Homo sapiens: one gene and its partners. The protein of the gene in region 6 purifies or fractionates together with the protein of the main gene of each other region. This does not show direct contact. Each region holds a gene or a part of one and is shown on either strand. Other genes may lie near its edges. The genes, in order: ACVR1B, TMEM33, ABCB1, DSG2, ADCY6, SLC43A1 and ABCD3.

The links.
Region 1: the proteins of SLC43A1 (region 6) and ACVR1B purify together in Homo sapiens (affinity purification with mass spectrometry; one large-scale study listed by BioGRID and IntAct). This does not show direct contact.
Region 2: the proteins of SLC43A1 (region 6) and TMEM33 purify together in Homo sapiens (affinity purification with mass spectrometry; one large-scale study listed by BioGRID and IntAct). This does not show direct contact.
Region 3: the proteins of SLC43A1 (region 6) and ABCB1 purify together in Homo sapiens (affinity purification with mass spectrometry; one large-scale study listed by BioGRID and IntAct). This does not show direct contact.
Region 4: the proteins of SLC43A1 (region 6) and DSG2 purify together in Homo sapiens (affinity purification with mass spectrometry; one large-scale study listed by BioGRID and IntAct). This does not show direct contact.
Region 5: the proteins of SLC43A1 (region 6) and ADCY6 purify together in Homo sapiens (affinity purification with mass spectrometry; one large-scale study listed by BioGRID and IntAct). This does not show direct contact.
Region 7: the proteins of SLC43A1 (region 6) and ABCD3 purify together in Homo sapiens (affinity purification with mass spectrometry; one large-scale study listed by BioGRID and IntAct). This does not show direct contact.

The regions. Positions count from the first base shown.
Region 1 is NC_000012.12:51,958,199-51,961,698, reverse strand, and holds part of ACVR1B (activin receptor type-1B isoform a precursor), read right to left. Parts: intron 2,440-3,500; exon of another isoform or gene 2,209-2,439; intron 1,644-2,208; exon of another isoform or gene 1,512-1,643; intron 1-1,511. UniProt on the Homo sapiens protein: Transmembrane serine/threonine kinase activin type-1 receptor forming an activin receptor complex with activin receptor type-2 (ACVR2A or ACVR2B).
Region 2 is NC_000004.12:41,938,429-41,941,928, reverse strand, and holds part of TMEM33 (transmembrane protein 33), read right to left. Parts: intron 3,328-3,500; coding exon 3,233-3,327; intron 2,734-3,232; coding exon 2,546-2,733; intron 1-2,545. UniProt on the Homo sapiens protein: Acts as a regulator of the tubular endoplasmic reticulum (ER) network by modulating intracellular calcium homeostasis. Mechanistically, stimulates PKD2 calcium-dependent activity. Suppresses the RTN3/4-induced formation of the ER tubules.
Region 3 is NC_000007.14:87,598,085-87,602,317, forward strand, and holds the start of ABCB1 (ATP-dependent translocase ABCB1), read right to left. Parts: upstream 2,801-4,233; 5' UTR 2,742-2,800; coding exon of another isoform or gene 2,671-2,741; intron 2,107-2,670; coding exon of another isoform or gene 2,101-2,106; coding exon 2,033-2,100; intron 1-2,032. UniProt on the Homo sapiens protein: Translocates drugs and phospholipids across the membrane. Catalyzes the flop of phospholipids from the cytoplasmic to the exoplasmic leaflet of the apical membrane.
Region 4 is NC_000018.10:31,539,677-31,543,176, reverse strand, and holds part of DSG2 (desmoglein-2 preproprotein), read right to left. Parts: intron 1,985-3,500; coding exon 1,863-1,984; intron 1,032-1,862; exon of another isoform or gene 856-1,031; intron 658-855; coding exon 325-657; intron 76-324; exon of another isoform or gene 1-75.
Region 5 is NC_000012.12:48,772,090-48,775,589, reverse strand, and holds part of ADCY6 (adenylate cyclase type 6), read left to right. Parts: intron 1-139; coding exon 140-287; intron 288-535; coding exon 536-633; intron 634-811; coding exon 812-899; intron 900-1,071; coding exon 1,072-1,188; intron 1,189-1,491; coding exon 1,492-1,650; intron 1,651-1,942; coding exon 1,943-2,121; intron 2,122-3,046; coding exon 3,047-3,082; intron 3,083-3,165; coding exon 3,166-3,295; intron 3,296-3,500. UniProt on the Homo sapiens protein: Catalyzes the formation of the signaling molecule cAMP downstream of G protein-coupled receptors. Functions in signaling cascades downstream of beta-adrenergic receptors in the heart and in vascular smooth muscle cells.
Region 6 is NC_000011.10:57,498,703-57,502,202, forward strand, and holds part of SLC43A1 (large neutral amino acids transporter small subunit 3), read right to left. Parts: intron 2,673-3,500; exon of another isoform or gene 2,628-2,672; coding exon 2,450-2,627; intron 2,342-2,449; coding exon 2,286-2,341; intron 2,154-2,285; coding exon 2,077-2,153; intron 1-2,076. UniProt on the Homo sapiens protein: Uniport that mediates the transport of neutral amino acids such as L-leucine, L-isoleucine, L-valine, and L-phenylalanine. The transport activity is sodium ions-independent, electroneutral and mediated by a facilitated diffusion.
Region 7 is NC_000001.11:94,484,389-94,487,888, reverse strand, and holds part of ABCD3 (ATP-binding cassette sub-family D member 3), read right to left. Parts: intron 348-3,500; coding exon 278-347; intron 196-277; coding exon 98-195; intron 1-97. UniProt on the Homo sapiens protein: Broad substrate specificity ATP-dependent transporter of the ATP-binding cassette (ABC) family that catalyzes the transport of long-chain fatty acids (LCFA)-CoA, dicarboxylic acids-CoA, long-branched-chain fatty acids-CoA and bile acids from the cytosol to the peroxisome lumen for beta-oxydation.

The DNA of each region.
Region 1 (3,500 bases), on a different chromosome or scaffold from region 6:
TTCCTGACCTATTTATTATAGTATGGACGAATGGAGAGGAGACCGTGTATGTCACAGTTTTGAGTGAGAAGAGGGATAGGAATGATTGTTTCAGGCAACTGGGACAATGGAAAAGGAAAAAAGAAATCAGCCAAACTGAGAATAAAACTAATGAGGTTGAGAGATCAAGTTCATTTGGCTGGAATAAAATGGGTAGGTGGTAGGATAAACAGAGATGAAAGAGGTGAGGTAGAAAGAGAGATTATGATGTTCCAAGTAACTCACAAATGTTTGCGGCATTTTTTGAGTAGGTTTAAAATACTATATATACAAGATTATAATAACATTAGAGCAAAACAGAATTGGAATTATTTACCTAGGATTTTACTGAGAGGATGGAAAAGAAATGAATTAATTCAATTAAACAAACTTATTAAGTACTTGAAACATGCAAGGCTCTGTGCAGGCCGAAGCCATATAACAAATAAGCCAGCTCCCCGCACCAATTCTTTGGGCATGGAGAGTGGGAGAAGACAACTATAAACAGTGCAACTCCAACTACCAATACAGGCTGAGGGGAAAAGCAGAGAGGATGGAATCACTGACCGGGAGAACACAAGAGGACGAAGGTCCACACTGGAGGACGCTGGGTTTGGCTAGGAAGAGAAGTGGGGAGAAGCATTCCAGAGAAAAGGAAAAGGGAAAGCAAAGGGCTGTGAAAAAATATTAGCTACACTGGGTTCAGAGTAAATTGACAGTTCGAACAATGCCAAGGTTCCAGCCAAAGGCAAGAAGAGTCAGGGAGACTAAGACCAGATGAAACTGATTGCAATGCTAAGCTAAGGGGTCTAGAGTTGATCCTAGAAGCCACACAACCTCTAGGTCAGACAAACAGGGTGCATTTCCAAAGTTAGATCTAGCCGTAGGATGGAAAACAAATGGGAGATTGAAGGCAGAGAGCCTGGTTAGAAGGTCACTTTTACAGTACTCACAGTTTATAGCACAGTACAATATTTAGAGCACATGTTTTGGACTTGGATAGACTTTGGACCCACTGCTTAACTTCTCTATGCCCTAGTTTTCTCATCTGTAAAATGGGAATAAGAGCCCCTAGCCCCTCAAAGAATAACTACATAGAGTAAATGATACAACACAGGTGCTTAGCATAATACTTTAGTATATAGTAAACATTCAGCAAATCAGATGCTTTTATTACAATTGTCACCTGAACTCCTCATAGTTTGTGGTAGTTCCAACAAGCAGAAAAAAAGTCCATTTGTGTGTAAACTTTTTTTTTTGAGACAGGATCTCACTCTGTCACCCAGGGTGGAGTGCAGTGGTGCAATCATGGTTTGCTGTAGCCTCAATCTCCTGGTCTCAAGCTATCCTCCCACCTCAGCCTCCCAAGTAGCTGGGACCACAGGCACACGCCACCAAGCCCTTGTAATTTTTAAAAATGTTTTGTAGAGACGAGGTCTCACTATATTGCCCAGGCTAGTCTCAAACTCCTGGACTGAAGCGATCCCCTGTACCTCATTCTCCAAAGTGTTGGGATTACAGGCATGAGCCACTGTGGCCGGTCTCTGTGTGTAAACTTCCAAAGGGCAAGGACAGACTCTTTCCTCAGGATCCCTCTCAGCATTCAGCTTGGTGCTAGGCACATCCTGGATATCAGAAATGAACACTGACTGATTACAATTCAATCTTATCTTCTACAGGTATAAAAGGTAATATGCAAACATATACCAAAGCAATATACAAGGATGTGGGGCAAGGTGAGTCCTCTACCACAAAAAAAAAAAAAACCCAGAAAATACTTCAATTCCCAGATTCCTCAACTCAAACATCCCAAGCACCTAAAAAACTTATTTCCAAAGCATCCACAATCCCCTCTCCCCTCCACTCACAAATATCTAGAAAAAAGTTATAGTCAGATGAAAGCCACATGTGGTCAAAGGATTTATTTTTATATGTGAGTGATGGGATGGCTGGGCACCAGGTCTCAAGTACCCTCATGCCTATCTTGGGGTATTTCTCATTATTCCCCTCTCTTGCTTTACCTATTTTCACCATCACCATTTGACTCACCCCCACCCAATGCATACATTTTTTAAACCACCACCTAGTTACTATTTCACAGTTCCTACAGGTCAGAAGTCCAGGCACAGCACCGACAGTGCCAGTTAGGGCTGCCTTCTCATCTAGGATTGGGTCCTCCTCCAAGCTTACTGGTTGTTGACAAGATCCACTGCCTTGCAGATGAAGGACTGAGGTCCCCATGTTCCTCCTAGCTGTCAGCTGGGAACCACTCTCAGCTCCTAGAGTTTGCCTGCAGTTCCTTGCCATGTGGCTGTTGGGATCGGCAGTTCACAACATGGACGTCTGCTTGCTTCCAAGCCAGCTGGAACATCTGATTTCCTCTTGTGCAATCAGCTGAGAAATCTCTCTGCTTTGAAAGGGCTAGTTCAATCAAGACAGACCCACCATGATAACCTCCTTTAGATGGCTAAAGGTCAACTGATTGAGACCTTAATTCTATCTACAAAGACTAGCATTTGACTGAATACCTGAAGCAGGTGTGTGTACACCAAACATGGGGAATCTTGGGGAAGTGAGGAGCAGAAGGTGGACTGTAGTAGGCACAACTGCTTTACATTTTATACTTTTGTTTATTGTCCACCTCACCTGGCAGAAGGTAAGCTTTCTGAGAGAAGGCAATTTTGTCTCCTTTCGTTTACTACTGTATCCCTAACACCTGCAACAATGCCTAGTATATGACAGGTGCTCAATAAATATGTGTCAAGGGACCCTTTGGATCAGGGGTCCCCAACCCCTGGGGCCACAGACCGGTACTGGTCCACGGCCTGTTAGGAACCAGGCCACACAGCAGGAGGTAAGTGGCAGGCGGGTACCTGAGCTCTGCCTCCTGTCACATCAGCGGCGGCATTAGATTCTCATAGGAGTGGGAAACCTACGGTGAACCGCGCATGCGAGGCATCTAGCTTGCATGCACCTTATGAGAATCTAACATGCTTGATGTGCCTGATGATCTTTCTTTTCTTTTTTTTTTTTTTTGAGGAGTCTCACTCTGTTCCCCAGGCTGGAGTGCAGTGGCGTGATCTCGGCTGACTGCAACCTCCGCCTCCCGGATTCAAGCTATTCTCCTGCCTCAGCCTCCTGAGTAGCTGAGATTACAGGCATGCGCTGCCACTACCATGCCCGGCTAATTTTTTATTTTCAGTAGAGATGGGGTTTCACCATGTTGGCCAGGCTGGTCTTGAACTCCCAACCTCAGGTGATCCACCCACCTCGGCCTGATGTGCTTGATGATCTGAGGTGGAACAGTTTCATCCCAAAATCATATCTCCCCTACTTCCCCTGTGGGAAAATTATCTTCCACGAAACCAGTCCCTGATGTCAAAAAGATTGGGGACCACTGCCCTAGATCACCATGGTAGGTACTCAACATGCATATGTTTAGTTTGCAGTCTGGAAATGGGACTTCTAACTACATGTATTAA
Region 2 (3,500 bases), on a different chromosome or scaffold from region 6:
AGATTCATAATCTTAGTCTTCAACATTACTCTTAAACTATTAATACAATGTATTTAGAAAAGATAAGAGGTGAAATGCCCTATCTGTTATTAATCAAGCAAGGACAAAATATCACTTTTATAAGAAGAAGGATCAGAACGCAAATCTGTAATATTACTTTGGGCCCGCTTTTATTTATTACCATATCACTTTAATAATCAGATTAGCATTTGCTGCCAATTACTAGTTTATGTTATTCCCACTGTTTACTACATTCCCTTTGTAAGAATTTAAGGAATATGAAATCCTTAATCTTCAACATTCCCAGGAAAGAGGGGCTACCAAATAACCAACTGTATAAAAAGGCAGAAAGGTTTTCTTCACCAGTCATGAGTCTCATTTGGCAAGACCTCAGGATTCACTCAACAAAACTTACTGAGTGCCTGATCTGTGTGAGGCACTGTTCCCAAAGTTATTGACGTATTCAGTTTACCCTACATTGAAACACATTTTCTGTCATTTCTATTTCTCCCTCCAAAGAAATTTTAAGCTACTAAAAGGCATGACCAAAAATCTCTACATAACTTCCCGTTATAGCTCAGAAAGGCTAGAATTTTAACATTGGTGACTGCAAAGCACTTCAATCAACAGAGGCTGGTCAAGCCAATAATATGCCAAACAAATGTGATTATCATTTACAGTTGTAGTATAGTAATCATTTAATGAGTTTTACCTAAAAATAAACCAATACAAATTATGATGGGACATTACAGACTCATGCATTGAAACAGGAAAAATTTTATCCTTACATTTCAAACTACCCACATTATCTCAGTGAAGTGAGTAATTTAAAGGGAATCTCCATATACTGAATATTTAAATGAAATTACCAGGTTTACCCACATACAGAAAGAAATATTTTTAATGTATACTTAAGTATTACTCACCCACTAACTGTAGATAAGGTAGAGCTTTTAAGTTAGAAAGACTTTTTCAGCATTACTACTTACTAGCCAATGTGTGGGAAGTGAATACTGACAATCAGCAAATCAGCATCTTTATTAAAAATATACCACAACAATTTTTTTCAGAGTGCTACAAAGATTAAATGTCAAGTTCTTTTTTTTTTTTTTTTTTTTTTTGAGAAGGAGTCTCGCTCTGTCGCCCAGGCTAGAGTGCAGTGGCACAATCTCAGTTCACTGCAACCTCCACTCCAGGGTTCAAACGATTCTCCTGCCTCAGCCTCCCGAGCAGCTGGGACTACAGGCACATGCCACCATGCCCAGCTAATTTTTTGTATTTTTAGTAGAGATGGGGTTTCGCCATATTAGCCAGGATGGTCTCAATCTCCTGACCTCATGATCCGCCCACCTCAGCCTCCCAAAGTGCCACCGCACGTGAGCCACCGCGCCTGGCCTAAATTCAAGTTCTTATACTGGCAAAATAGGTGCTCAGGAAATTTCGGTTTCCTCCTATTTCTTTTCCTTAAGACTTATAAAAATCTATTTAAAAATTTGATACTTCATGAGCATAGGTATCTAAATAGGTAATATTCAGTCTCAGAGGAATATTTTATTGTGCTTTACATAACATACAGATGTATCATAAATATTCAAAAGCTCTTAGACCAGCACTTCTCAATGCACAAAATGATTTGCAGAGATAATCTACAGGAAAAAAAACAACCACAAATTTAAGTTTAAAAAACCCTACTAACTCTCTTAGTTTCACAACACACGTTAGAATACCAAAGCCACTATAGTAAAGAACCCTATTTAAAAATGTTTGACCTGGCTGGGCGTGATGGCTCACGCCTATAATCCCAGCACTTTGGGAGGCAGAGGCAGGTGGCCTGGGCAACAGAGCAAGACTCTGTCTCAAAAAAAAAAAAAAAAAAAAAAAAGAAAGTTTAACCTAGTGTTCACTATAGAACCTCTTCCCCATTTTTCCCCTCCTTTATGGACTACCCAGTATCATCCCACAACACACCTTTGAAATGTGAAAACATACAAATTCCAAATGAATTATTTCTCATTAGCTTCACGGATTATCCATGTGTGTCCTTATTTTCTACTCTATACACAGCAAATATTAATTTCTTTGTATTGATTATCTCATTACCTGCTTAAATAAGTTGTTTCTTGGTTAAATTCCATTTGTATCTAGTTCACTGGGGTTAAGATGGAAAGAGCTGAGGACCTCTCTTTTTTAAAGCAAGACATCTGGACACTTTGCCAAAAACGTGAATTAAATGAAAAAAATGTAAATATTAAAGTAAGTTCTGCGTAAGGTTGTGCTTCGAAGGGGAATTTGAAAATATCCATTCTAATAGGGAAGCTTACAAGAGGCAAGAACAAAGATAGTTTAAAATTCCTAAATCAGCTCTTCAAAGTTTAGATTTCACATTTTAAAGTCAGAAATTCTTACACTAAACATATCTTCATTCAAATGAAGTGCCGAGAACAAACCCAGGCTTCATGGAATGCCTTCATTGCTGAAATAATCAGAAGAGATCTCCTATATGCTTAGTTGGCAATTTCATTGTTAACAAGGTAGAAAAGGATACTTGTAACTGGATAGGAATTTACAAAGATGAGTGAATACAACAGGTAGTGGCAGCTGTCCTCTAACAAAGCCTGGGCCAGGAATGCTCTGCTTAACTGGAAGTGTGGTAATCTTTGATGCAGCCTCAGAGCACTGGTAAGAGCATTTGCCAGCAAAGCACGTTGGTAAAAGCTTGCTGCTTCATGCAACCTGCAAATTACCAGAGGAGAGGTTATCATGAGACATAAACAACTGCAGTGTCTCTTCCTCCTTTGTGAATTGCATCATAATTGCACAACACCTAAATCACTTGTCAATAGAAAAAAATTACATGAACTTATTCTACCGTTTTAATAGCTTCACTTCATATATATGCCCAACTGAATTTCTTATAATCAATTTATAAAATTGAATTTTATAAAGCAGGACCTTCCTGTCAAGTAATAAGTAAAAATGAAAAAAACATGAACTTATCTCATTCCCACACATCAATTTTTCCTTGGATTTTCAATGTGTTAGTTTCACAAAGCACAAGATATAAAATATTCCTCTGATAATGTTATTAGGTTGTTAGTACCTGAAGGCTGGAACTTGTATTTTATTTGTCCCTAAACCCTTTACAGGTTAATAAGTCTTACACCTAAAAGGCACTCCATATAAACTGACTCAACAATTGAATATCAAAGGCAGCAATATGTATAATACATACCCAAGAAGAGGCAGAACAAACAGAGCAGAGCAGTAAACTGTGAACAAGCGAGAAAGCCACATTGCCGTGTCCAGTTTATTGGTCATCATGAATTGCTAAATTTAAAAAGAAAAATACTGTAAGCTATGCCTGCAAATCATGTTTTTAAGCATCAAGACTGTGTGGTTTTTATGTCTACTCAAAATATTTTAATCTTCCTCCATTTGTTTTTTTAGATCATTAGGTGAAAACTCTAAGGCAATTACATGTTTCATGTATATGCTTAATG
Region 3 (4,233 bases), on a different chromosome or scaffold from region 6:
TACACATCAAACAGGAGATTTAGCATAAAAGAGAATGTAAACTATCTTATTAATCATTTTGATTACATGTAGAAAATCCAATCTTTTGGACATATTGAGTTCTATAAAATATATTTACAAAATTACTTTATCTTTTTATTTTCATTTTTTACTGTTGCTACTAGAAAATTTTAAATTACAAATGTGGCTCACATGATATATCCATTGGACAGCCCCAGTCTACAAGTTTAATTGTATACAGACTAAATGTTTTTGCAGATATATTAATATTTGCTAGGTGATGTTGTTTACTCAAAATCCAAGTGATGAGTCATTTACTACAGTCCATTCTACCGTGAGAGATACCAGGTCTGATCACTCGGTTAAGGTGCTAACTGCAAAATCTTTAATTGGAGAAGCATATTCTCCTTCCAATTAGTAAACATTCTGAAGAAAATTCTTAGATACAACATTTTTCTGATAGTTTAGAGTTCATTGACAATCCTTGCCTGAATCTATTATAACAATGGAAGTTCCAAAATGATAGCTGGAATTTTTCTCTAAAGATCATTGCTTTATTTTCTCTACCTCTCACACTTTCTTTCAGTTTCCCTTCTCTCAGAATATTAAGCATTCAGCAGTAGCATTCAGTATCTCAAAATCAGTTACAGTTACGATGTTCTTTGATGCTCAAATTGTCCCAGAGTTGGCCATTGGAAGCATCTTCCAGACAGCTTCAGTGTGCTTTCGACTACTCCATTAAACTCCACTTCCTTATTTTCAGGTACCACAAGATACTCCAGGCTCACTTTCTATTTTTCCTGTCCCAGACCTGGCTGAAATTAGCTACTGAGGGGTTCATTTCTTTTAGGGAGGAATGGTATTTAGAAACCCAGATCTGGTACTAACAGTGCTCATTGTTACTGTCCCTTTCAGTGGACTGAAAATGAACTATTAAAAGATTATGAATTCATATTGAAATTTCTAATTCAAACTTAACATTATTTTTAAAAATGTATTTGATTTCCACATTTGTATTTTTTCTCTTACACTGAAAAGCTTGGTTTCTTATAATATTAATGTGTTTACTAATTTATCTTATAATTTACATTACAGTTTCTAATATTATTAAACTTACTAGTCTATTTTACAATTTACTACTAACAATGAATCTATTTAGTGAAGTTTTAAATATTCTATAAAGGCAGAGCACCATGATCAAAATTTACTTTAAATAATTATTTTCCCTATATGATTACATTACCAATATTATATACAGATATTTATTGCCAGTTAACAACCTAAATGTACTTTTGACCTTCTGTCTCATCAGCCAGGCCACAAACGCGATGTTTACATAGCCATTTACCGGAAGCAAGAGCCTGGACCACAGAGCAGATCACCAGCAGCATATGGCTCACGTGTGGGCGACCAACACCACTTGAAAAGCAGAAGTTCATAAGACAGAAACACATATGAGCATCCGCCTGTCTGGGGCAGGAAAGCTGAGAAAGAGGCACACCAAGACTAAGGGAAAGAGGCCGGGAAGGGTAAAAAGGTGAAATGAAAAGAGGTTGGTGAATGACTAAGAACGGTTGGATAGGACAAATAAGTTCCAATGTTCGATAGCAGACGAGGGTGACTACAGTTAGCAATATATTGTATATTTCAAAGTAGCTAGAAGACTTAAAATGTTATCAACACATAGAAATGAAATATACCTAAGGTGATGTATCCTTCAAATACCCGGACTTGATCATTACACATTCCGGGCATGTAAAAAACGCTTCCATGTACCCCATTTCATAAATATGTAAAATATTATGTATCATTAAAAGAAAGAACAAAAAAGACAGGGAAAATGCATATGCTGTGCTCCACTCAGCCAACAAACTTCTGCTCTAAGCAGGGATATTGATTCCAAAGGCTAGCTTGCGTTTCTTAAAAATAATTAAAAACAACAACATGTCATTTATTTCAGAGCTGGAGGCTAGAAATAAATTACTCAAATCTCGCAACTATGTAAACTATGAAAATGAAACAAGCTAGTTACCTTTTATTGTTCAGTTTAAAAAAGTTCTTCTTCTTTGCTCCTCCATTGCGGTCCCCTTCAAGATCCATTCCGACCTGAAGAGAAACCGCAGCTCATTAGCCAAATGCATGAGCCTCAGGCGCGCTGGAGGTGAGACTAACCTCTAGTCCCCCGTCGAAGCCAGAGAGCAGTAAGAGGGAGCGCCCGCCGTTGATGCCCCAGCTGCTCTGGCCGCGATGGGCACTGCAGGGGCTTTCCTGTGCGCGGGGTCTCCAGCATCTCCACGAAGGCAGAGTTGGGGGTCTGGCAGCGCGTTCTGGACTTTGCCCGCCGCCAGTGCGATTCTCCCTCCCGGTTCCAGTCGCCGCGGACGATGCTTCCTCCCACCCACCGCCCGCGGGCTCAGAGAGCAGGTCCCCGCACCGCGCGGGCTGTGCGCGCTCCGGGCAACATGGTCCAGTGCCACTACGGTTTGGGCGCTGCTCCAGGAGCTCCTGAGTCTAGATCTAACCCCACTTGGTCCCCATGGACTTGCCAGAGGACTTCACACTATCCACGCCTCAAGAAGCCCTTCTCCCGTGAAGACCAAGTTCAGGAAATCTGAAAGCCTGACACTTGGGAACTGTCCCATAGTAGCTCCCAGCTTTGCGTGCCCCTACCTCGCGCTCCTTGGAACGGCCACCAAGACGTGAAATTTTGGAAGAAGATACTCCGACTTTAGTGGAAAGACCTAAAGGAAACGAACAGCGGCCTCTGCTTCTTTGAGCTTGGAAGAGCCGCTACTCGAATGAGCTCAGGCTTCCTGTGGCAAAGAGAGCGAAGCGGCTGTGCTCAGCCCACGCCCCGGCGCTGTTCCTGCCCAGCCAATCAGCCTCACCACAGATGACTGCTCCCGGCCCGGATTGACTGAATGCTGATTCCTCGAGAAACTGCGAAACAGGTTGAATTTCCAGGAGGAATGTTCTGGCTTCCGTTGCACCTCTCTAGAAAGGGCAAGTAGAGAAACGCGCATCAGCTGAATCATTGGGGACATTTCAACTTATGTAGACACGTCTTTCAAAGTTCACATAAGTCTTCATATCCATATAACTACAGGACGTAGTTAAGGGAAATTTTCTCGGGATTCGCATTTAATACAGTTAATACAAAAACTCCGACCTCTCCAATTCTGTATCACCTTTCTGCTTCCTAACACCTTTGAAAAGGCTAGGAGAAATTTTTCTGCAGTGGTCTTTCTTCAGCATGCTTGACAGTTTCTGAGTTACATCTGTTCATCCTTTATTTGATGATAAATGGAATGAAAGAAAAAGGAAGTTTTAAAAAATATATAGAGACAGGTATTTCAAGGTACAAATGCTATTTCAAAGTGTGTAATATTTTAAAACTTCAGACGTCAGATCAATGCCCGTGTTTTTCCAGGGCATTTTAAATTCTTACATTTTAATTCAAATTAGTAAAATAAACATAGCATGTTTTAGCATATTACATTAGTTGTAATTTCCTTCCATATTTACTGCCAACATTTAATATTTTTTCCTGTCCACTATTTACTTCAAACTGAGGAAAAGTACGTGCAATCTGCACAATTCAAAATTGTAAAGCAATGCTAACTCACATCAGAGCTTTTCTTACTTCTTATGAACATAGAGGAAATAGGTTTGTTGTATCCTCTAGTCTACATTCTATGACTTTCACATATTACCTATCAGTTTATTGCATAAGTTTAGAAGAAGAAAATCACTTTGTTTTTTACTGCATAGTCTGAGGATGTTTCCACTTTCTTTAAATAACTCATACTTCAAAGCCATAATTTTTTTCTATTCTTGACTACAAATTTTCCTTATCTTGATATATTTTGTTCTTGGCCTTACAATACAATGAAGTTTTCTTTTGTTTTTCTTTCTTTTTTCTTTTTTGAGACGGAGTCTTGCTTTGTCGCCCAGGCTGGAGTGCAGTGGCAGGATCTCGGCTCACTGCAAGCTCCGCCTCCCGGGTTCACACCATTCTCCTGCCTCAGCCTCCCAGGTAGCTGGGACTACAGGCTCCCGCCACCACGCCCGGCTAATTTTTTGTATTTTTCGTAGAGACTGGGTTTCACTGTGTTAGCCAGGATGGTCTTGATCTCCTGACCTCGTGATCCGCCCGCCTCGGCCTCCCAAAGTGCAGGGATTACAGGCGTGAGCTACAGCTCGGCCTCTTTTTTTTTTTTTTTTTTTTTTTTT
Region 4 (3,500 bases), on a different chromosome or scaffold from region 6:
GCTCTCTCAGTGTGCATCTTGATATGAAGACATCATGAAGGAAAGCAGAGCTGACTGACTGGCAAAAACATAACTGTAAGTGAGAAATATGCCTGTGTGAGAACTAAGATCATGGTTACTGCAGCATAATTTAGCTAACACCGACTGATTCTGTGGGTCCCATTTCTCTTTCCTTATTGCCTATAAGTATTCCCTGAAAAAAGAAAAAAAAAAAAAACCCAAAGTCTCATTTGGATCCAAGGCAATGATTACCCTAATAATATCACATTCACATACAAATGTTCCCCCCACCCCCCACCACCAATACATAAAACTCATCCTTACATCAGTGAAATAATTTCTTAAGAATTCTTCGTTCAGTGCAACAGCAGCTGCCTGAGCTCCGGCCATGTCTCTGGAAGCCCCTGTGGCCCTTGCGGTCTTCGTGGTTTCAGTGGTCATGATAGCGCCTGTGGCCCCTGTAAACTGGGTAGCTCTACCAGAAAGCAGGCTTCTGTGTTCTTCCCACCTTCCATCCATCTCGGACATCTCATGTTGCCCTTTGACAATGGAAGCAGAGCTACTTCCTTTCATCGTGGCTTCCTTGGCCATACCTCCTACTCCATTTCTTCCTACTAGACTGCCCCCTTGATCCACTGGCAGAAATGATGGCACCACCTGTGAGAGCAAACACAGCTGAGAACTGAGTCAGGAGGATGGAGGGAATCCTTCATCCTTGGTAGAAGGATCTGAGTCAAGTGGGCATAGGAAGGTATAAGCTATTTCCACTGAGGCCAGTTAGAAAAAGTATTTTGAGTTGAATAACTTATGTAAGTCTTATGAAGATCTCCTTTCTTCTCTCTTCTTGTTTTATAGGTGGATAGAACCCAAAGAGAAAACAAAGCCCAAACAGTCTCAGCTCCTTTACTCTATGCGACCAATGGCATTTCAACCTCCCTCTACAGTTTGATACCTTCTTCTATAGTTACAGAATTCTTAACTTTGTTTTGACCTGGATCCATGGCCACCCAAAATAAAGACTATATTTCTAAGCCTCTGATGCCACTAGGTATAGCCACCTGACTAAACTGTGGTCAATGTGAATGAAGCAGAAATGGTGTACACAAGTTCCGGGAAGTGTGCTTAAAGAGGGTTCTTCACTTTTCTCCCATGTGCTGGTTAGAATGTGGGGACGGCAGCTAGGTAGCTAGAACTAGGACATGAGGACAGTGTGGGAATGGAACTCAACCATGGAAGAAAAACAAGGAAGAGGGAACTGGGGACCATGCTGCGGATGAATCATCATGTTGATCTTGGAATGCCCATTTTAGGATTAAGCCACTGTTATTCTGAGTTCTCTGCCACCTGATGCTAAATCCTATCCTATTAGAAATGGTGCTCATAACAGATGGTGGTGAGAGGTCCAGGGTGAAGGTGCAACAGAGAGACAAAGGGATATGGCTATGATGTAGTTGGGAAATGGGGTTTTGCAACATTTTACAAGTGTCATGGGGGTTGTGGGCTTACCTCTGCAAACCCTATGTATTGAGGGAAATGGAAATGAAGCAGTTCCTGGTTATGAAAACTGCCCATTTAATGTTAGGACAAAAGACTTAGATTCCTACACACTCTTGCTCTTCCTGAACCTTGCTCTACATTCTCTACAACATGGGAAGTGTCAAAACAGAGTAAAACTATCTCAATTCTGCCCCAGCAACAAACACAAAATATGCTGTCATTTGAACTCTTTGCTTAACAAAGGCACATGAGTGAAATCCATAGTGATCACTTTACTCACTCAACCAAACATGTAAGAAACACTTCCCTAGGCCCCTTTAAAACCCAAGAAGAAGACAAGTCATATTGACATCTGATCCACTGACCTTGTCTTCAGGTGGTGCTCCTTCATTATTCCAAGGATGCAGCATCTCTATGGTGCCAGGTATGGGGGTAAAGCCTTTGGCGCCCTTTCCGCAATGGCACATCAGCAGTAAAAGTGGTACCACTGTACAGACACAAAATTGAACACAGATAAGGTTAACCTTGATATATTTCTAAATTTATATTGCACAATTTTGGAATTTGCATGTCCCTTCCTGGACTTGTCTTCACTTATTTACAGCTCTATTTTTCTTTTCTTCACCCTGATCCAACCTTACCAAGCTTGTTTTGGGTGAATTACTCCAAAACCCGAAGGCAGGATGAGGGAGTCTTACAGATTCAAGGCCTTGTTCATCAAAAAGAGGCTGTCTGTGGCTGCTGAGTGGAATACCAAGACTAGGTTCAGATAGTATCCAAATCATCAAAACCAGCTTAAAGATTAATTTTTTTAAAACTATGGTCCAATTAAAAAAAAATCACTGTTGCAAAAATATATGTACTATTGAAAACAGTAATTAGAAATAATAAAGTGAAACATATAACAATTTCAGAGCCCTCTTCTTAGATTTTATTTTACCCCTAGGAGGAAGCAAAGACCAAGGCTGACCCCTTGATCAATGTAGTAAAGAATTAAACACACCTGCATGCCCATCTGCCACTCCCATTTGGCAGCTTCCAATGATGAACTGGCTACTGCCTAGATTCGTTTTTATGTCAAACAGTCAACAGCACATTAACTACAGCTACTACGATTAATAAGAAGACTGAAATCAGCCAGTGGCAATTCAACAATTTTAACAAACATTCATCAAGTGTCTATTATGTGCCAAGTACCACATTAGGCTCCAGGGAATCTGAGATGAGAAAGCAGTGCAAGGAATCCCTGAGCAAAAGATACAGTCCCAGCTCCAGTACCTACCTACAAACTTGGTAAGCTGAGACAAGTCATTTACCGTTATGTATCTGTATATGTAGCCATAGCATGGAGATGATGGTATAAAAGTACACTGCAGACTGTTGAGTGCTGTGCTTTCAATTGCACATCTACCAATGGCTCTAATACAGCAGTCCCCAACCTTTTTGACACCAGGGACTGGTTTCATGGAAGACAGTTTTTCCACAGGGAAGTTAGGGGTAGGGGGGTTGGTTTTGGGATGACTCAAGTGCATTACATTTATTGTGTACTTTATTTCTATTATTATTACATTGTAATATATAATGAAATAATTATACAACTCACCATAATGTAGAATCAGTGGGAGCCCTGAACTTATTTTTCTGCAACTAGATGGTCCCATCTGGGGGTGATGGGAGACAGTGACAGGTCATCAGGCATTAGATTCTCATAAGGAGCACGCAACCTGGATCTCTTGGCATGAGTAGTTCACGATAGAGTTTGAGCTCCTATAAGAATCGAATGCCAGCACTGGTCTAACAGGAGGTAGAGCTCAGGTGGTAACACGAGTGATGGGGAGTGGCTGTAAATACAGATGAAGCTTCACTCACTCTTCCACCACTCACCTCCTGCTGTGCGGCCTGGTTCCTAACAGGCCATGGACAGGTGCTGGTCTGTAGCCTGGGGGTTGGGGACCCCTTGTCTAACAGACCTCTCCTCTGTCACTGCACTAGCCTAGGCTGCC
Region 5 (3,500 bases), on a different chromosome or scaffold from region 6:
CTTAGGAGTGTTGTGTGGGAGCAGGAGCCACCCCCCTGGCTCTCCCTCCCTCCCTCAGGTGCTGTCCATACCTTTCCTTTCATTGTTTCTCACATGGCCATGCCCATGCAACTGGTGAAACCATGTCTCCTGCCCTCAGCCGGGGCACCCAAGATGCCCTGAACCCTGAGGATGAGGTGGATGAGTTCCTGAGCCGTGCCATCGATGCCCGCAGCATTGATCAGCTGCGGAAGGACCATGTGCGCCGGTTTCTGCTCACCTTCCAGAGAGAGGATCTTGAGAAGAAGGTTTGAGGGATACAGGGCAGAAGGACAAGGGCTGGGGGAGGGGCAGGTCGCAGCAGGGAAGGCTGAGCACAGGTGAGGGCACAGGTGTTTCTGGGGGATGGAGAAGGGACCACAGAGCAGGGTGAGGATTTCATCAGTTGAGCCAACTGCATCTCCTCCCTGTTGAGACCCCTGGTAGTGCCCTGTCCTTGCTGTCCCTGCCTTCCTTAGGGAGGGCCCAGCACTCAGCTCAGCCTCCTCTCCCTCAGTACTCCCGGAAGGTGGATCCCCGCTTCGGAGCCTACGTTGCCTGTGCCCTGTTGGTCTTCTGCTTCATCTGCTTCATCCAGCTTCTCATCTTCCCACAGTGAGAGCCCTGCCTTTCCTCTCTTAGCTTCTCTCTTCACCACTTCCCAGAAGCTTCCTAAATACCCACACAAGCCCACAATCCCTGGAGCCTGCATCCCTGCTTGTTCCAGAGGGTGGGACAAGAATGCCCAGATCTTCCAGAATTAAATGATTTTTCTGGCCCTGTTCTGCCCCAGCTCCACCCTGATGCTTGGGATCTATGCCAGCATCTTCCTGCTGCTGCTAATCACCGTGCTGATCTGTGCTGTGTACTCCTGTGGTTCTGTACGTAAGGGGATTTCTGAGGCTGTTGGGGAGGGCAGGCTGGACTCCAGACAGGGAGGAGGTCACATGGGGAGAGGGAGAAGGCCATGCCTCTTCCACTGGGCCCCATCCCTGGTTGCCATTCCTCCTTGGCTGATACAACCTTCAACTCTTGGTCTCTTGATGCCTCTAGCTGTTCCCTAAGGCCCTGCAACGTCTGTCCCGCAGCATTGTCCGCTCACGGGCACATAGCACCGCAGTTGGCATCTTTTCCGTCCTGCTTGTGTTTACTTCTGCCATTGCCAACATGGTAAGGGTCCAGTGGGAATTCTCCCACCTCTGCTCTGTGCCAAGCACTGTCCTGGACACTGGGAGTACAGCGGAGAAAAGGACATATTTTCTGCCCTCAGGGAGCCCCCTCCCAGAATAGGGGAAGGTTAACTCCGGTTCTCCTTCCTTGTTCTCCCAACCTCTTGTCATCCCTGAGTGAGTACTAAGGCCCATGGGGTATAAGGTACCTGGGCATAGCCCAGGTTAGGGTACATGGCTTCACCAGGTACCTTGCAACCCTTTCCCTCCTTGGTTACCCTGATATACCCCTCCACTTTTGCAGTTCACCTGTAACCACACCCCCATACGGAGCTGTGCAGCCCGGATGCTGAATTTAACACCTGCTGACATCACTGCCTGCCACCTGCAGCAGCTCAATTACTCTCTGGGCCTGGATGCTCCCCTGTGTGAGGGCACCATGCCCACCTGCAGCTTTCCTGAGGTGTTCGAGCAGTGCTCAGGCGGTGGGGGGGCTGTCCTGGCACAGACATTGGCCCTTCTGTGCCAGGCCTGGTGATGGGCGCTGGGGACCCAGGAACTCACCAGAGTCTCCCACACTAGGAGCAACCAGGGGCCCTGGTGTGTTGTAGGGGCTGGGCATGGAAGGTGGAGGATATGGGGGTTTGAGGGGTGTGGTGGGAAGGTTAGGTCAGGCAGGAGAGTGCAGGGCTCTCCCTGCCCAAGGGTGCTGTGGCCTCTGCCTTCACCCAACGCTGCCTCTGCCACCCCCGCAGTACTTCATCGGGAACATGCTGCTGAGTCTCTTGGCCAGCTCTGTCTTCCTGCACATCAGCAGCATCGGGAAGTTGGCCATGATCTTTGTCTTGGGGCTCATCTATTTGGTGCTGCTTCTGCTGGGTCCCCCAGCCACCATCTTTGACAACTATGACCTACTGCTTGGCGTCCATGGCTTGTGAGTTTATTCTCAGGTCCTTTAATACCCCAGGAGCTTCCCTCACCTTTCTAGGTCACTGTGAGCCTCTCTGGTGCCCATGCCCCTTGTGCCTTGGAATGCCACAACACCCCTGTGGGGGAAAGGGAGGAGATGGAGGAGCTCCCAGCATGTGACCCCAAATAGTTACCCCCAAGGAAACCCTAGTCCTGGGAAATCCTTGTGTCTTTAGGCTAGACATTAAAAAAAAAAATTCCCTCTTACATTTGCATGGTGCTTTCACATCCACCATCTTAACCACCTATAGGACATACAGCTGCTTGGTGGCAGGGCTCTGGTTAGGAACCAAAGCTTCTGATTCCTGCTTGGGGGCTTTGCCTGGGACACCACACTGGCTTTTCCTCTGCAAAACCCCATTCCTTTGATATGTGGCCATAGCTTGTTGTAGTAGAAAAAGCCTCTGGTCTCTGCTGGGTTTGAATCCCTGCTCTGCTGCTCATTAGCTGTGTGACTTTAGACAGGTGAGTTAGCTTCTCTGAGCCTCAATTTCTTCATCTGTAAAATGGCAATGTCACCTAAATCACAGGGTAGTTGTAAAGATTATAGTAACTAACATTTATGGAAGGCTGACTATATGGCAGGCACTGTGCTAAGCCTTTTACATACATTATTTAGATCTGATCCCTGTTGTACTGATGAGGAAGGAGGCTTAGAGAGTTAAGCGACTTGTCTCAGGTCACATAGCTGGTAAGTAGAGGAGTCTCTAAGAGCAGAGGTTTTCTTAACCTCTACTCTTAATGAGTTAATTAATGTAAGTAAAAGCCCTGGCCCAATGCCTGACTTACAGTATGTGCTCAGTAAATGCAGTCTCTTGTCTCCCCTTCCATGTGCCCACCCAGCAATCCAGGAAGCACTGATGACTTTGTCTCTTCTATCTTCTTACCAGGGCTTCTTCCAATGAGACCTTTGATGGGCTGGACTGGTAAGTGAGGGCTCCGAGGCAGCAAAGGGTAGAGCCATTAGATGCCTCCTTCAGACACCAAGCATGTCTCTGCTTATCCTTAGTCCAGCTGCAGGGAGGGTGGCCCTCAAATATATGACCCCTGTGATTCTGCTGGTGTTTGCGCTGGCGCTGTATCTGCATGCTCAGCAGGTGGAGTCGACTGCCCGCCTAGACTTCCTCTGGAAACTACAGGTGACTGTGTGGGCCTTTGGGGGAAGAGGAGGAACCTAGGGGCGGAGCCTGGGCCAGGCCAGAAATGTATCTTGTGCTAGCTGGCTAAGGCTCAGGCCACACCTAGGCCCACCCTGGTTCCATTCCTTCTCTGTGCCCATCCCTTACTCCCTGCCCCATCCTCTACCTGCCCCCTTTACCCCTTTGCCTGTTCTTTAGGCCTCAT
Region 6 (3,500 bases):
AGGTGAGGGTGGAAATAAGGGAGGGAACTGAGCCAGGGCAGACAGTCTCCAGAGGAGGTGGCTCTGACGCAGAGCAGGGTCAGAACCCACACCAGGAGAGAATTTAATTGATCATGTGTTCCACTCACCTGCCTCAGCCAAGCCCTCAGGGCAGGGGAAGGCAAAGTCAGGATGCCCTTCGCACACACCCTCCTCTGGCCCCACCATCCTCCCCAAGTCACTAGATCCCACAGCTGAGAAGGACCTTAGGATCCGTACAAAGCCTAAACACACTCCACAGAGGGGGAAACTGAGACTCTGAAGGGAGGCCTCAACAGCTCTGGTAAAAAAGGCGTTTAGGCCGGGCGCAGTGGCTCACACCTGTAATCCCAGCACTTTGGGAGGCCGAGGCGGGTGGATTGCCTGAGCTCAGGAGTTCGCGACCAGCCTGAGCAACACGGTGAAACCCCGTCTCCACTAAAATACGAAAAAATTAGCCGGGCGTGGAGGCGTGCACCTGTAGTCCCAGCTACTCGGGAGGCTGAGGCAGGAGAATTGCTTGAACCTAGGAGGCAGAGGTTGCAGTGAGCCGAGATCGCGCCACTGCACTCCAGCCTGGGCGACACTGCGAGACTCCGTCTCAACAAAAAAAAAAAAAATGGTGTTTAAACACATATAACTAAATTATCCTTCCCCCTTCCCCTGAAGTGGCTGGCTCAGGAAAAACCTCTACCCACTCAGGCAGAGGTTTTCCTGCACCCTGCATCCGTGAGGCACCACTGCCAAGGACGCCACGGAAGGCTGCCAGGCCTGGAGAGGGGCAGGGCCCCCTCCCCTCCAAGGGGCCACAAACGCTGTCTGCGCCCAGTACCGTGGGTAAGGCGAGGCCGGCCGGCTAACCCCGGGCTGGCGGCCTTGCAGCGTGCGTGGCAACAGCAGCTGGGCCCGCAAGACTCAGCACGGGACGTCCTCGTCCAAGTCTGGGCCAAGAGCAGCGGCCCAGGGGGCGGGGCCGGCCAGAGGGAGCGGGGAGAGGCTGAGGGGCGGTGCCAGCGCCGGACCCTGCCATTGGCTGGAGATTACAGGAGGCGGGGACATAGCAGGGAGGAGCCGCTGGACAAGCCCCACCCGGCCGCCAGGGAGGGTCTGAGGTCAAGCGCCGGAGAGAAGGGATTTAGGGCCCTGGGCCAAGTTGCACAGCAGGGAGAAGGGGCTGCGCAGAGGGGCGGGGAGAAAGGGATCCGCTTCCTTCCTTTAGAGCTGTGAAATGTCCCCGGTTGGAATTAAAGGCGGCTGCTGGGGAGAGGTGAAATTCAGCCAAAACCACCCAGTCAGGCAGCCCTTCTCAGAGATAAACAGTCCGAGCCAGCCCGGCCAGGAACCTTCCCCTCCAACCTCCCTAAGCCTTTAACACTCCTAAGCCTTTAACGCGTTTACACACTCACATAAATAAACACACTTTGAGCAACACACATACACCACTCACCACATGTAATAGGTCAAGCCATGTGCACGACGAGGTGTCGACAATTTCATATGGTTCAACCTAGTACACTCACAAACACACCTACCAACTCATGGCTTTCACAGGGACGGGGTCACACACCCACTCTCCCACGACATGGCAAGCGTGCACACGCTATCTCAAGCTGCTCCCTCCCCCTCAAGATCATGTTACCCAGTTTTATTTTCTTCCCAGCACCTATGACGACTGACATAATTTATTAGTTTACTTGTTTATTGGGTTATCTGTGCCCCTCACCCCCAAAATGTAACCTCCAGCAGGGAGGATGACTCGGTCAGTCCTGATTGTGCTGTAGTCCAGGACCTAGAACAGAGCTCCATGGACATTCATGGGCTCTGTACACACAAACACACACATTAACATACACCCCGACACACAGCCTCATCCACACACACACAGCCTCACACCTGCTCTTTGCAGCCACCTGCACAGTTTCTCACACACTCACTTGATCTAGTGATCTGCGTCCACAGGCCCCTCCCCCAGCCCATTCATACTGCCCTCACCCCACTCACTCTGCCCTCACCCCACTCGGGGGAACTCTGCTGCCAGGCCAGGCCTGTGACACTCACCGTGAGTGAAGTGAACGTTAGGCAGATGCCACCAAAGCCATTCAGGGACAGCGCCAGGAATATCAACGGAGACAGAGCTGGAAAGGGGAAAGCAGCAGATGAGGGCATTTGGGGAGCTGTGGGAAGCCAAGGGCGGGAGCTGGGGTAAACATCCGCCTTCATCCCACCTATTCTTTTCTTGTGGGGCCACAAGAGGACAGACAACTCACCTTCCACGTCCCGGGAGGCCAGGGCCATGAGGGTGCAGGACGCAGTGAAGCAGGCACTGTGGAGACACAGGGAAGGGCGAGGGGTTGGCCTGTGAGCACCCCCCCTCCCCTCCCCCTGCAGCACGGTCCCTGTCCTCCCGTTCCCCATAGCCCAGCCACCTCACCTGCCAACCAGCCGCACGGGTCGGGGGCCAAAGCGGTCCATGAGGATCCCCAGTGGCAGGGTGGTGGCGCTGAGCACGAAGGAACCAATGGTGAAGCCCAGGTTGAGCATCTCGTCCTGCTGGTCACAGCCTGGCCACCTGCGCTGCTCATCCTGGGTGGTGTTGGTGCTGCTCTCAGCTGAGGAGGGGGAAGGGAGGGCTCAGCACATGACACCAGGAACAGCTGGGCACAGGAGACAGCAGCCCACAGTCAGGCGGCCTGCTTTCAAATCCCATGCCAAGTGCCTTTGGGGGTACCCTAGAGTCACATCTCCTCTGATGGGGCTGCTCCAGAAATGGCAGCCATTAGTACCTGACCCTGGGAGAGTCTTGTGCACACACAGCCTGAGGCTTCAACTAGCTCAAATGAAATACTGGACATAAAAGTATTTACTAAGTTGTAATATGCACTCAGTGTCCAAGCTTAGGGGGTTGTGGACCCCCAACAAGAAGTGCCCCCATATCTAGAGGCAAAGGCAAAGGCAGTGAGTGGTACTCTAATGGCTATAACAAGAATTCATTAAAATGGCCCGGCGTGGTAGTTCATGCCTGTAATCCCACCACTGTGGGAGGCTGAGACAGGCAGATCGCTTAAGCCTACAAGTTTGAGACCAGCCTGGGCAACATGGTAAAACCCCATCTCTAAATAAAAAAAAGAAATTTAGAAAGAACACTAAAACTTAGAGGAAGCTTTCCCGATAAATGATAGTCTGATAAAATAATAGCTAATACTTATTGAGCACTTAACTATGCTCCAGGCACTGTTCTAAACACAACAGCCCCATAAGTCAGTTAATAAAGTATCCCGTTCCCTAGGTGATGAAGCTGAGGCACAGAATGAGAACCAGGCACTGCCCTCCAGTCCCCTCTAGAAGTCCACTTGGAGGACTTGTCCTTAACGGTAAACTGCCAACTTGGAGTTGTGACAAGTTAAGGAGAAAAGCTAGTGATAGGAGACAAAGGGCTGCTTCGCTTTACTCAATGCTCAGTGAGTCATGAGGTGGCTGCCCCC
Region 7 (3,500 bases), on a different chromosome or scaffold from region 6:
AAATAGAAATAAATATTAGTTTTTACTTATAGTTCTATGACTAAAAATTTGGCTTTATTTTTACTGTTACATTTTCATTGTATTATCATCAGTTTACCTCTAGAAGTTCCGAATGTGTACTCTTGAGATGTCGAGGATGAGACAAATCTAAGAAAGGGCGACTGACAACTAGGTAACCAACAACAGTGGCAAGGTCTGAAACCAAACAGGTAAGATTTAAAACAGTAACAGTATTTCACCTTTTCCACAAATCTCATCTCTTTCAAAATATACTTACATTTGGCAATAATACTATCAATGAAGCCCATTGAAAACCGAAACAAAATGAAATTATGTAGGTGTTCCACCTGGCAGAAAACAAAAACAAAAAACCATCTTTTTCTCTGTATAAAAAACTGAATCTACTATAAGGATAAAACAAACTGTATAGTTCATTTATTCAACAAATATTTACTGAGTGCCCGTGATTTCTGTTTATATTCTGTTTATATTGTACATCACACCACCGAGGACAATGCTCTTCACAGAGCGGGTGCCAAACAAACACTTCATGAAACCATTTTTATGCAAACAGCATGGAAATTACATAAACAATTTTAACAATGCTGTTTCTCTTGCATGCAATAGCACAATGCTATTGTAGTCACCATGCTTTTGGATACACATATCCCAAAAGAGGACAACAACGAAAGCAAAAAGAACAGAGATTAACTAGTTTGAGTGAAACACTAGCTGTCCGGATTGGCACTGAATGCTTTGCTTTCAGTGGAGACACATGGTCTGTGCTTTATCTAAGAATTGTATTACACCCAATCTGAACTGAGTGCTAATGTAAATCAGTGCCACACAGCCTCAGTTTTAGCTTTAACATGAGCACGCATTGTCTTAAAACTACAAGTCTAAAACTGCTTTTTTATTCTGGAGTTGTAGTGTTCTCAAACTGTCCATCTACCAGATTATTCAAGGTCCTGCATGATCTGGCACTGAGCTCTATTTTTAAGGTCATATGCTTCTACTTTGCTCCTCCTCACCAAGCTCCAGAAATAACGGTTTCTCAAACATGTACCTTCTTAAGGATTTCCTCTTGCTCTTCTCACTGCCAGGAATACATTCTTCTAAGGTATCTATATTTTGTGACTCCTTCACTTTCATGTGGATTTCTGACTAAATGTCACCTCCTCAAGAAAGATCTTGGCCATTCCAGCTAAAGTAGCTGGGCAATAGCCCCCTTCATATCTATCCCTTTATCCTGCTTCATTTTTGGCCACCGAATTCATTACTACCTGAAATTATACAGAACATCTAGTTGTTTATTTATTGTCTGCTCCACTAAAATGTGGCTTCCTGAGTACAGGGTAGCTTGTTAACAACTTGGTATCTTCTGCAACTAGACAATCTCTGGAACATTTATTCAATGACTACCATGTGTCAGACACTGTGCTCAAGCTGGAGATACAATGAATAGAACAGAGAAGGTCCCTGAATTTATGGAGTTTACATTCTAATGAAAGAGCATAACTAGTAAACAAGATAATTAGAGACTGTAATACAGTCATCCCTCGGTATCCAAAGGGGATGGGATTGGTTCCAGGACCTTCTGGATACCAAAATCCATGGATGCTCAAGTCCCTGATGAAAAATGGCATAGTATTTGCATATACCTGAGTACGACATCCCATACACTTTATTTACTTTTTGAGACAGAGTCTCACTCTGTCGCCAAGGCTGGAGTGCAGTGGTGCCATCTTGGCTCAATGCAACCTCCGCCTCCTGGGTTCCAGTGATTCTCCTGCCTCAGCCTCCCGAGTAGCTGGGATTATAGGCCCCCGCCACAACAACCGGCTAATTTTTGTATTTTTAGTAGAGATGGGGTTTTGCCATGTTGGTCAGGCTGGTCTCGAACTCCTGACCTCAACTGATCTGCCCGCCTCAGCCTCCCAAAGTGCTGGGATTACAGGGGTGAGCCACCGCAACTGGCTCATCCCAAACACTTTAAGTCATCTCTAAATTACTTATAAAACTTAATACAATGTAAATAGCTATTACACTAATGTCTGTATTGTTCAGAGAATAATGACAAGAAAAAAATATGTGTACATAAGTACAGACACAATTTCTTTTTCTGAATATTTTCAATCTGTGTGGTTGAATCCATGGATTTGGAACCCACAGATGCAGAGGGTTGACTGCAAATATATATATACTTTTAAGGAAAGATGATGATTAAAACAAGAAGTAACTGTTGGAGGCCATTTCAAATAGGCTGATCAGAGAAGACAAAGCTTCAATAAGGTGTTAACATTTGGGCTGAAAATCTAAAGGATGAGAATAAGCAAGCCGTGTGGAGAGCAAACTGGTGAACTGCAGGCCCCTGAAAAATTACCTTAAATGCATTCTACCAGTGAGCACTCTAAAAGTTCTGCCATGTTAAATACCGACGAGGCAAAAATCCAATTTCTGAAATAATTTAAAATGACAATTTCTTTAACCTCTTTAACTCATCTAAAATATACATTTAATTTCACAAACTTCAGACTTCCACTAAAATGTAAGCTCCTTAAAGGCAAGATTTTATCCATCATGTCCACCACCATCATCCTTAGCACCTGGAGTGAGCACAGGCAACTAGACGGCATTCAATATCTTTTGAATAAATAATGGAATAAAAGTACTTGAATTCAAATTTTCCAAGTGGCAATTAAATAAAAACTGAAGTAAAGCTTTCACAAGAAACAATGCTTATATTCTTTAAAACAAAAAGCCAGTAAACTCTGACCCATAGTCCAAATCTAGCCTGCTACTTGTTTTTTTAAGTAAAGTTTTATTAGAACATAGCCACACCCACTCATTCATGTATTATATATAGCTACTCTTGAGTAGCGGAGCTGAATAGTTGCAAGACACTGTGTGGTATGAAAAGCCTAAAATATATACATACTATCTTGCCCTTTATGGAAAAAGTTTGCTGACTCTTGCTTTACATAATAATCTTTATTGTATTTTCATGAATGCTTCAGGAACAAATTCTTTCTGTGGGAATCACTAAATAAGGCTCCTAAGCAACCTCTGTAAAAATACACTTAATTTTTTTTTTATGTTTTTGATTATACTTTAAGTTCTAGGGTACATGTGCACAACGTGCAGGTTTGTTACATATGCATGCATTTGCCATGTTGGTGTGCTGCACTCATTAAGTCGTCATTTACATTAGGTATATCTCCTAATGCTATCCCTCCCCCAGGCCCCCACCCCACAACAGGCCCCGGTGTGTGGTGTTCCCCACCCTGGGTCCAGGTGTTCTCATTGTTCAATTCCCACCTATGAGTGAGAACATGCAGTGTTTGGTTTTCCGTCCTTGCAACAGTTTGCTCAGAATGATGGTTGCCAGCTGCATCCATGTCCCCACAAAGGACATGAACTCATAATTTTTATGGCTGCATAGTATTCCATGGTGTATATGTGCCACATTTTCTTTGTCCAGTCTATCACTGATGGACATT